Linked DNA regions of Homo sapiens. The protein of the gene in region 2 interacts with the protein of the main gene of each other region in a pairwise test. Each region holds a gene or a part of one and is shown on either strand. Other genes may lie near its edges.

Region 1 (5,185 bases), on a different chromosome or scaffold from region 2:
AAAAAAGAAAGTGCCTCCATGCAGGTGTGTCTGGATGGTGTGAAGCAGGGAGTCTTCTCTACCTGGTTATCCTACCCCAGGAGGGAAGTGGGAAATGGTCATTTCACTTCTGCCTCCCAGGATCCAGCTAGGTTTGAGGCTTGTTCTCTGGTTTCATGGACCCGACCCCTGAAAAGAAGGAAGTTTTCCATTGGTCTTGGATGTTAGTGCCTCTGCTAGCTGCCTAGTTACATGAGGCTTCTTGCTCCATGAAACAGTGTGTATATTCCTTTTATTTTTATATTTTCATAGAGATGGGGGTCTCACTGTGTTGCCCGGACTGGTCTCAAACTCCTGGCGTCAAGTGATTCTTCTGCTTCTGCCTCCCAAAGTGCTGGGACTACAGGCATGAGCCATGGCACCCAGCCCTATTTTTTTTTTTAATAAATGAAATAAGAAAATAAATAGATATTATTTTTTAACAACCCGTTCCTTCTAGAGTCTCAAATAAGTAAAAACTAGAGCAATAGAGAAATATGCGTAAGACTTTGACCCATAATAGTGATAGAAATTAGGTTTGTGAAAGTTTCCACCCGTGAGTGGTATGTTTCCCTGCTATCCAGGGACGGCCCAACAGGAGAGTCTAGGTCAGTGTTTTCTGGTGTTTTACATTCTGTGGGACATTTGTGATTGGCCAGATTTGACCTGGGTGGGGTGGGTGGGGGTGAAGTAGAGTGGAGCAGAAAAAGAGAATTTTTCTGATGTTGAAACTCTTATTTTTAACTTTTTTTTTTTTTAAGACGGAGGTCTCACTGTGTTTTCCCAGGCTGGTCTTGAACTAGCCTCAAGCGATCTTCCCACCTCAGCCTCCCAAAGTGCTGGGATTTCAGGTGTGAGCCACTGCACCCAGCCTCTGGTGTTGAAACTCTTTAGGGGTGTAGGAGAGTAAAGAAAAAGAACCAGCCTGGACAACATAGTAAGACCCCATCTCTACAAAAAATAAAATTAGCTGGTTGTGGTATCACGTGCCTGTTGTCCCAGTAACTTTGGAGGTTGAGGTGGGAGGATTGCTTGAGCCCGGGAGGCAGAGGTTGCAGTGAGCAAAGATTGTGCCACTGCATTCCGGCCTGGGCAACAGAGTGAGACCCCATCTCAAATAAAAAAAAAAGAAAAAGAAAAAGAAAAGAAAAGAAAAGAGAACAGCCCTAAACCCAACGTTAGTCAATCTGCAAAAAAATTATTTTGTTTAATGACTACCTATCAAATGTATTATGAGGTTGCAGAGCTTGGTAAGCAAAGGGAAAAAAGGGGAAGAATGTATTATGAGATATAAAAAATGAATTAGAAAAAATTTAATGAGTTAGGAGACCATGAGAATCAGCCAAGGTATAATAATAACTAACTAATTATTGTGTTTGGCAGTATTCTAAGGACATCATTGTATTACCTTTTTAAATCTTGACAAGAACGGATGAGGTGGGTATCAGCCACATTTTACTCTCAGGACGATTGAGGCACAGAGAGGTTAAGTAACTCACCAGAAGTCACACAGCTGGAAACGGTCTCAACCTTTACCCACTGCCTCAGGCAGCCTCTGAGTACTGAGCAGATGCTGGCATTGGAGTTAGAAGGCATTTGAGGCTTACAGCTGGGCATGTACATGGGCCTTGTGGTCTCTGGGAAGTTGTCTAACCTTTCTAAGCCTCGGTTTCCTTATTGTCAAATAAACATAATACTTACCTGGCTGATTTATTGTGGGGATTCAATTAAGCCCAATATGCCTGAAGGCATTTTGTAAACTGTGGAGCACTAGTTCAGTGATTATTGTTATAATCTGACTGGGGAGACGAACCCGAGACAGCAGAAGTGTGAGCAATCAAGCAGGCTGTGATTAACTCTTCCTTAGAGGGATAGATGTGGTACTAGGTAATGGGATAATTACCAAGAGCACGTGGATAAAGCACAGGCTTTGGGGTTGGGAGCCCTCCCCGAGGACTGAAGCACATCTTGTAGCATGAGTTAGTGCTTGCTGGGTGGAGGAGGGGATGGGGCATTCCAGTGACAGAAGAACATAAATAAAGAGACATCTAGACTAGGCAGATAAACTTCCCAGCGGGTGCAGTGGAGACTCATTGGCTGGGGTAGACAGAGAGGCAAAATTGGCCACTCCCTCCTCTGAACTATAGCAGGGCTGGTGACCTCTCCTAGTTCCTGTGACCTTGTGCTGGCATCATTTCTCTCTGTGGCCCCCATTGAACACTGAGCTTATTGAGGGCAGGTCTGTGTCTTGCTCTTGCCTGCATCCTGAAGCTCATGGTTAGTGGTGAATGGGGTCAGCAAGGGAACCCTGGGCCTAGGTGGGTAGTTCAGCCCTGGGCCACAGGATATATTAATAATTACTTTATTTATTTTTATGTAAGAGATGGTCTCGCTCTATTGTCCAGTCTGGAGTGCAGTGGCACCATCATAGCTCAGTTTTGCCTGGGACTCCTGGGCTCAAGTGATCCTCCTGCCTTAGCCTCCTGAGTGCTGGGACTACAGGAGCATGCCACCATGCTTAGCTGATCTTTAAAATTTATTTATTTATTTATTTATTTATTTATTTATTTATTTATTTGAGACAGAGTCTCACTCTGTTGCTCAGGCTGGAGTGCAGTGGCGCCATCTCGGTTCACTACAACCTTCGCCTCCTGGGTTCAAGTGATTCTCCTGCCTCGGCCTCTCGAGTAGCTGGGATTACAGGCGAGCGCCACCACGCCCGGCTAATTTTTTGTATTTTTAGTAGAGACAGGGTCTCACTTGTTGACCAGGCTGGCCTCGAACTCCTGACCTCAGGTGAGCCGCCTGCCTCAGCCTCCCAAAGTGCTGGGATTACAGGTATAAGCCATCGTTCCTGGCCTAGAATTTTTTTTGTAGAGATGGGGTCTTGCTGTGTTGCCCAGGCTGGTCTTGAACTCCTGGGCTCAAGCAGTCCTCCCGCCTTGGCTTCCCAAAGTGTTGGGATTACAGGTGTGAGCCGCCGTGCCCGGCCTATAATTACTTGTTTTCTTATAATGCTCCAGGGTCGCTGTTGGTCTAGCCTTGCCTCCCGCATACCCAGTCTAGAGCCTGGCCACATGCCCATCAAAAGACTCTCACTGCTCTGCCTGCCTTCTTCTGTCCTGGCGTCTATACCCTCAGACCAGCCTTGCATACCTACTCCTGCCAGCCTCCTCCAGGAAGCCTTGCCTCCTCAACTCTCCTGCACCATCCTCACATTTCACCTGGCCACTGTCACTGCCAGAGGAGGCACCACTGACCTGCCTCATGGCCCAGCCACTGCACCCATCTCCAACCAGACCCTTGGTGTGTTCCCCACCCAATCCATCACAAGCCACTTTCAAGCTTTAGGGAAGTGAAAAGTACTGCCTGCCCTCAAAAAAAAAAAAAAAAGAAAAAGAAAAGAAAGGAAAAGAAAAGAAAACCCAGCCGTAATAAGGAGACCTTATCAGGAGTACTTTACAGTTTATAAAGCATGTTTCTAGCCATCATTGGGACCACACGGTGGTCAGTCATTATCATTTTCATTTTATGGATGAGGACATCGTGACTCAAAGAGCTTGGTAACGTGCCCAGGGTCATCCCACGGGTGAGTGGAAGGGCCAGGATTCAAAACCAGGACTCCAGGTTCCAAGTGTCAGGCCCGTTCGACCACACTGTCCTCCCACCAGCCAAGAGGGCAATTCTGGAATCAGCCAGGAGGGCTGTCAATCACAGGACAAATAAAATAGTCTGTTTTTACTTAGCTGGAAAATGGTTTTCTCCATGGTTTGTTTATTTCTTCAACATCCGTTTAGTGAGCACATACCGTGGAGGAGACACAGAGATGAGTAAGATAAAGAGACCGGCTCTGGGGGGCTCGTGAGTCAGCAGGGAGGCAGACTGGCCACTGCGGGGCTCCTGGACAAGCCTTGGGGCTCTGATGTGGTCAGGCCCCGAAACACCAGCATCACCAGGGCCATTAGGATGTTGGGCACCACCCAGAACTACTGAATCAGGACTTGTCGTGTTCACCACAGCCCTGGGTACTCTGTGTACGCTGATGTTTGAGCAACAGTGCTCTGTAGTAGGTGAGTTCTGGGATTAGAGGAAAAGACACAGAGTGGGGAACAAACCTTTAGAGAGTCAAAATCTCTTTGGGTGAGCCGGGCGCAGTGGCTCATGTTTATCATCCCAGCATTTTGGGAGGCTGAGGCGGGAGGATGGCTTGAGCCCAGGAGTTCGAGACCAGCCTGGGCAACATAGCGAGACCCTGTCTCTACAAAAAAATCAAATCAAATCAAATAATTAGCTGGGCATGGTGGTGCTGCCTGTAGTCCCAGCTACTCGGCAGGCAGAGACAGGACGATTGTTTAAGCCCAGGAAGTTGAGGCGGCAGTGAGCCGTGATCACACCACTGCACTCCAGACTGGGTGACAGAGCCAGACCCTGTAAAAGGAAAAACAACACAAAAAAAGCCAGAAACAAACAAAAAAAGTCGGTGGATAGCGCATACGTCAGAGCAAAGGATCTTAATGCATCCTGCGTTGAGAAGAGCCTTAGATCCTAGAGAGAAAGAGATAGAAACAAATATTTATTGAGGGCCTGCTGGGTACCAGGAACATGCTGGGTGATTTATATCTATGATTTCATTTTAATAGCTCAGGCTCAGAGAGGCTAAGTGACTTGTCCAAGGTCACACAGCGAGTGAACCGAGAAGCCAGGACTTCACAACCAAATGGCAAAGTCCTTTTTTTCATGTTTACGTTGCGGGTACTTCTGCCCTCTTGCTCATGATCTTAAGCAGATGCTCAGCCTTAGTTCAGCAGCTAAAAAATTTTAGGGCTGGGCTAGAAGGATCTGCGGTTCTCAACCCTGGCTGGAGAGCTCTTTGAAAAAATAAAATACTGTTTCTCTGGGCCCCCTGCATAAGGATTCTGTCTCATTGGTATGGGGTGATCATTGACATTTTGTAAAGTCCCAGGTGGTTCTCATGTGCAATCAAGATGGTGACCGTGGGTCCTGATGGGTTCCCACACCCCTGGCACCCCACGGACTTTGGGTGGCTCAGTTGGTTCTGGTTATACTCAGAAAACCAAGATGGCCCTAAGCCTGCTTCCTGCAGGTAAGAAGCATCTGTGTCAGGTTTGTTCTTTAGGAATGCAAATGCTCAGAGCCAGGCTGTGTA
Region 2 (5,185 bases):
AAGAGTACTAGCACATCTTTGGTTTTTCTTCATTGTATTCCACAGCCTATTAATTGTTCCACTATTTTTGTTTGTTTGTTTTAGAGACCGGGTCTTGCTCTGTCACCTAGACTGGAGTGCAGTGGGGTGATCACAGCTCACTGCAGGCTGGAACTCCTGGACTCAAGCATAGTTCCACTATTCCCAGCCTAGTTCCACTATTTAACATATATTCTATTCTCCACTGTTAGCTGTTTACAGTCTTCTAACCTTGTTAGATGGTAAGCTTCTTGAGAGCAGACACAATATGTTACCGACTTTTGGTACACAGAAGAATGCTGTATATCAAAAAGGAAACTGGTAGAATAGAATTGCTTTTGAATGTAGCTTGTACTTGGCACCAGTGAAGAAAATAAAGCATCTCTAAACAGTAATTTTTCTCCCTTCACAACTAGAAACTAATTTAAATAGGCATAACATAGTATAGGTATGTTTGTACATAAATACAAATTCCTTAAGCTTCTTAAAAGTGAAGCATAAAACACCTGTATTACCAACTACACCAGAGGTGTAGTGTAGTCTGGGGATTCCCAGAAGTCAGAGACCCTTTCCAGGAATCTGGGAAGTAAAAGCCGCTTTCATAATAATATTATTAATAAGATGCTATTTATCTATTTTACTCTCATTCTCTCATGATTGAACAGTGGGGATTTTTAGATGACTTGTGATATCATTATTCTGAAGGCTAATAGAATATGTGTTTGGGTAGTCTTGTGTGTGAGTGAATGGACACCACTTTATCTTGCCCTTTTGATTCTTATGTACCTGCTGTTCCTGCCATTTCGGAATCTGAAGGATGCAAGTAGGATAAAAAGCAAATCAAAGTTCTTTGCTATTAAGGTTATTCCAAATATGATCTTGGACAGACAGTATACACTGAGTAAACTTTCAGACTTTCAAGTTACGAAATTTTGGCTTTCCCACTAAGACGTGAATTGAAAAACTTAGGGAAAGTAAACAGTGAAAGATAGATCAAGCGTGATTGGGGCTGACTAAATGATATTTTTCTGAAGATACTCTCCCAGTATAACTGCGAATTCTTTGGGGAACACTGCTTCATTTAATGACATATTGGGAATGAAAAACAAACAAGAAATGAATGTTGAAATGAATTAACATAAAAATACTTCTGCATAGGATTTCTACCATCCTTAGAATCATCTCTCCTACTCCTGCCAGCCCCTTAGAATATCAACTGTTTTGGAAATCCGAAAATTTTGTTGAGTTGTTTTCTAAACCCTGAATAATTTGTTAGATAACTGCAGGTTAGACCACTATGGGGGGTCTTGGTCACAGCACATGGTCACATTTTCCTGAAAAAAAATTTAAAATTCTACTAATTGGTAAATATCCTATGAAAGTTTAGATTATCTTTTCACATCTTAATTTATAAAGTACTCCTTATAAAATAGAAAATCATAATGTCTTTGAACAAAGTCTAATAATTTCTATAAATCATTACCTTAGATAACAGCTTGTCAAATAAGCTATCCATTATCGCTACAAGCTTAGCTGATATTTCAGCTATGTGATCATGGTAGTCCTGCAATGAGAAATGATAATTGTATTTTTAAGTCCCTGGGACACATTTTTAAAATACTTAACAATTAAGGATCTAAACTTATGAAACGCCAATAGAAAATATATGAAAAAGTACCTTAGTGATATGATCAAAATGCCTAAGCATGCTATATTGCTTAGGTGGTAGTCGAGCTTCAAAATGAGCCCGGATCACAGGAATGTAGTGCACAATTAACTGCAAACATCGTGAAGAAAGAGCTGAAGATCCAGGGAGTAGATATATAATGGAGAAATAAAAAAAAAAAAGGTATTAGTTGATTTTAATTACAAATCAAATCAAATAAAAAACATCACTTATAAAGAACCAGTTTATTTCATAAACGAAGAGCCCTATGGCAGAAGGCAACATATTTCATTTTGTCTAATAATTTGATACTGAATAATGTAATGAACATGCTGCTTTCACAAAGGACTCAAGTTGTGAGTATTATCAGTATCACAATAACAAGACAACTGATTCTCTTATGACATTCAGATAGCTTTCACCCCCAAATACTTTATACACATTATATCTTAATATTTTCTAGAGTGGTGTAACTTCCAAGTAACTTATACTTGGAGGGGAAATGCATCGTAACCTTTTCCCCATGGTTAGTTTTTTTCAGTGATGAGTATACATAAAAGAGTAAGTAGCATTTATTTTTAGAGTAATGCCACTTTGGTTAGAGCCATGAAAACATGAGGTATAAAAAAACATGATGAGAACAGTGACATCACTGTTAACACTTCAGCAAGTGAATTAAACGCAAGAATCCATACCCAAATTTTTTGTAGTTATCGTTTTTAGTCCAACAACTTGCAGTGCACCAGCTCCAAGAACTAACTGGCAACTTCTTGAATTGAAGTACTAACAAAAGAAGGAGAAAAAAACCCCAAAATTTACTAAAAACTGTTCTTTATATCCTGGCAATGTGCTATTATAAAAATACATTCCCCTTTCCTCTCATTCAATGGCCAAATGAATTATCTAGTAGAAGCAATTAGTATCTATTTATTTAATGAAAAAGAAATGAGAAGGGGAGATTCTAAATGATAATATTTACTGATAAGAAAAAAGTTGAAAAATTCTAAAAATCAGTTCGCAGAAATTAATCTTTAATTTGCATGTACAAAACAAATTCGGTTTCAGTCATTCTTGTTGGGAAGTCCTATTTTCAAAAGTTATAAAAATCTGTCTTGGCTAAAACATGACAACTCAAGTCAGAACATAATTAACAGATTAGAGGTTTGAAAAAAATAATAAAGCATTTCCTCCGTACTGGTAGTTTAAAATATCTCAATATGAAATGGCTGAATAAAATCATCACATTTTCATTTTATATCAATGGTTCTGAAAGAATGATGCAAGAAAAATCTCTAACCTTAGTGAGATGAATTTTGTAAAGTTCAGTGAATTCCTTCCATGCACATTTGAAGCCAGTCCAGGTTTTTTGACCTAAGTGGCCTCAGTCATGTTCAGCACCTAACGAACAAATCATCTCCTGTCTCCAATGTCATTAACAACTCTATGGGTGAATGAGGATCACTAACTGTGGAGTAAGAAGGAAGCAGGCAGCCTGTTTCCAATAACATGTTGTGATTCAACCACAATCAAATGTTATAAAACTAATGTCTTAAAGTTAATTTGACCTTGAAATGTCTTTGAGTTAAGATTAGTCACACCCTAATGTATTAATTCCTCGAAAAATTTTTCCATAATGGAGTGAAGTCATACATACCTTCAATAAATCTGACAGACGAGTAAGCATGTCAGTAGTAACAGATGGGATGTTATCCACACACTGGCAATATTCAAGGATAATTCTTATTAACAGCAATACGGTTCTACAAGAAAAGAAAAATGGCCCAATAGGAAATCAAAACAAGAAAAATCAAAAGGATTTGGCATATAAAAATCAAATTACTTAATGGCACAAAGGATCTCTGAGAATATAATGACCTTGGTAACTATGTTAAAGTATGCATTTTACCTACTAGTACAGCAGGTTCTTGACTAACACAAGACAAGAGAGGTGTCTAGAATGCAAAATTTAAAGAGGCTCTTACTCTGTGCAATTGCAGGATCAGCTTGCACAACACTGAGAATGAGTGGCTCCTTAAATTCTGTACAACAGGCATAATACTCTCTGTATGGCATTCTTATTAAGTAAGGGAGTCGCTTCAGTAAGACAGGTATTGCATTCATTAGCCAATTCAGAAACACTGACAAAAAGCCTATCCAGTGTTTCTGATTACCAACATAGTAGGTCCTCCATCATAACTAATGAATTGATGAAGAAAACCTAGTCCAGATTTTCTTAGTGAGATGGAAAAAAAAAAAATCTATAATGGCTTCTAAGGAAAACATGTCTCCTAAGAATTTTATTGGTAGGTCACAAAAGGTTCTCTGGCTGGGCGCGGTGGCTCACACCTGTAATCCCAGCACTTTGGGAGGTCAAGGCAGGCAGATCACTGGAGGTCGGGAGTTCGAGACCAGCCTGACAATGGAGAAGACCAGCCTGACAGTGGAGAAACCCTGTCTCTATTAAAAATTCAAAATTAGCTGGGCGTGGTGCTGCACATCTGTAATCCCAGCTACTGGGGAGGCTGAGGCAGGAGAATCGTTTGAACCTGGGAGCCGGAGGTTGTGGTGAGCTGAGATCATGCCATGGCACTCCAGCCTGGGCAACAAGAGCAAAGCTCCGTCTCAAAAAAAAAAAAAAAAAAAAAAAAAAAGTTTTCCGAAGATGATAAAGTTATCACCTCCATAGAAGGACAAATCACACGTTAAAAAGACACACTACTGGGAAGTTAAAGAAGATTGAAATTAAGGAGAAAGCCATTCATCATAGGATATCTAAGTTCAATGACATGCTCAGAAATAAGATCTACGTAAAATAAGGATTTATAAGAGCCTGAAAGATATCAGGAACTAATGATTCAAGAAAGATGGTGTCTAGCCTTTATAACACCTTGTCAGACCATATATGCATACTGGTCTCTATGCTTATTTCTCCTAGAGTCTGCCTAAATGAGCATGAGTCCATTGCTTATCTTTTGTAATTGTCTCTCAGAAGTTGTAATAGTTCCCCTTTAGCCAGGGAATTTAGTTTTTTGGCAACAGACTCTCTGCCTAAAGAGCCAAAAGCAAGATGGCCAGAGGGGACCATATCCATCAAGCAAGTGAAGAGTGACCAGATAACCAGTAGTTAAGGAGGGAAATCATAATTATATTGAAGGGATGGGATTACAGGAAGACTGAAGAAAGCTTTCCCTACCAGAAACAGGGAAGGACTTCAGAAGAGAAAAGAATGGAGGCTTTAGTTTAGAATGTGTGGACTTCAGGTATTTGAATACAGATACAGAAAAAGGATTAATTCTATACATACTTTTTGAGTGCTTATTATGGTGCCAAGAAAAATAAAAACGGTAAGACCTCATCTCTACCTTTGAGGAATTCAGAGTCAAATTAGAAGACATATACATAAATAAACAATTCTATTATACTACGGTAAGTGCCATGATTGAGGAACATAGAATTACATTCTTCCTGGAGGTGGTGGTCATTTCAAAAAACACTTGACAA

The links. Proteins that work in one complex are often made in the same cells at the same time.
Region 1: the proteins of VPS54 (region 2) and HIP1 interact in binary tests that used the Homo sapiens proteins (3 or more experiments, as listed by UniProt).

What each region holds. Positions count from the first base shown.
Region 1 is NC_000007.14:75,731,657-75,736,841, reverse strand, and holds part of HIP1 (huntingtin-interacting protein 1), read left to right. Parts: intron 1-5,185. UniProt on the Homo sapiens protein: Plays a role in clathrin-mediated endocytosis and trafficking. Involved in regulating AMPA receptor trafficking in the central nervous system in an NMDA-dependent manner. Regulates presynaptic nerve terminal activity.
Region 2 is NC_000002.12:63,910,844-63,916,028, forward strand, and holds part of VPS54 (vacuolar protein sorting-associated protein 54), read right to left. Parts: intron 3,445-5,185; coding exon 3,339-3,444; intron 3,083-3,338; exon of another isoform or gene 2,982-3,082; intron 2,468-2,981; coding exon 2,380-2,467; intron 1,819-2,379; coding exon 1,697-1,818; intron 1,583-1,696; coding exon 1,502-1,582; intron 1-1,501. UniProt on the Homo sapiens protein: Acts as a component of the GARP complex that is involved in retrograde transport from early and late endosomes to the trans-Golgi network (TGN).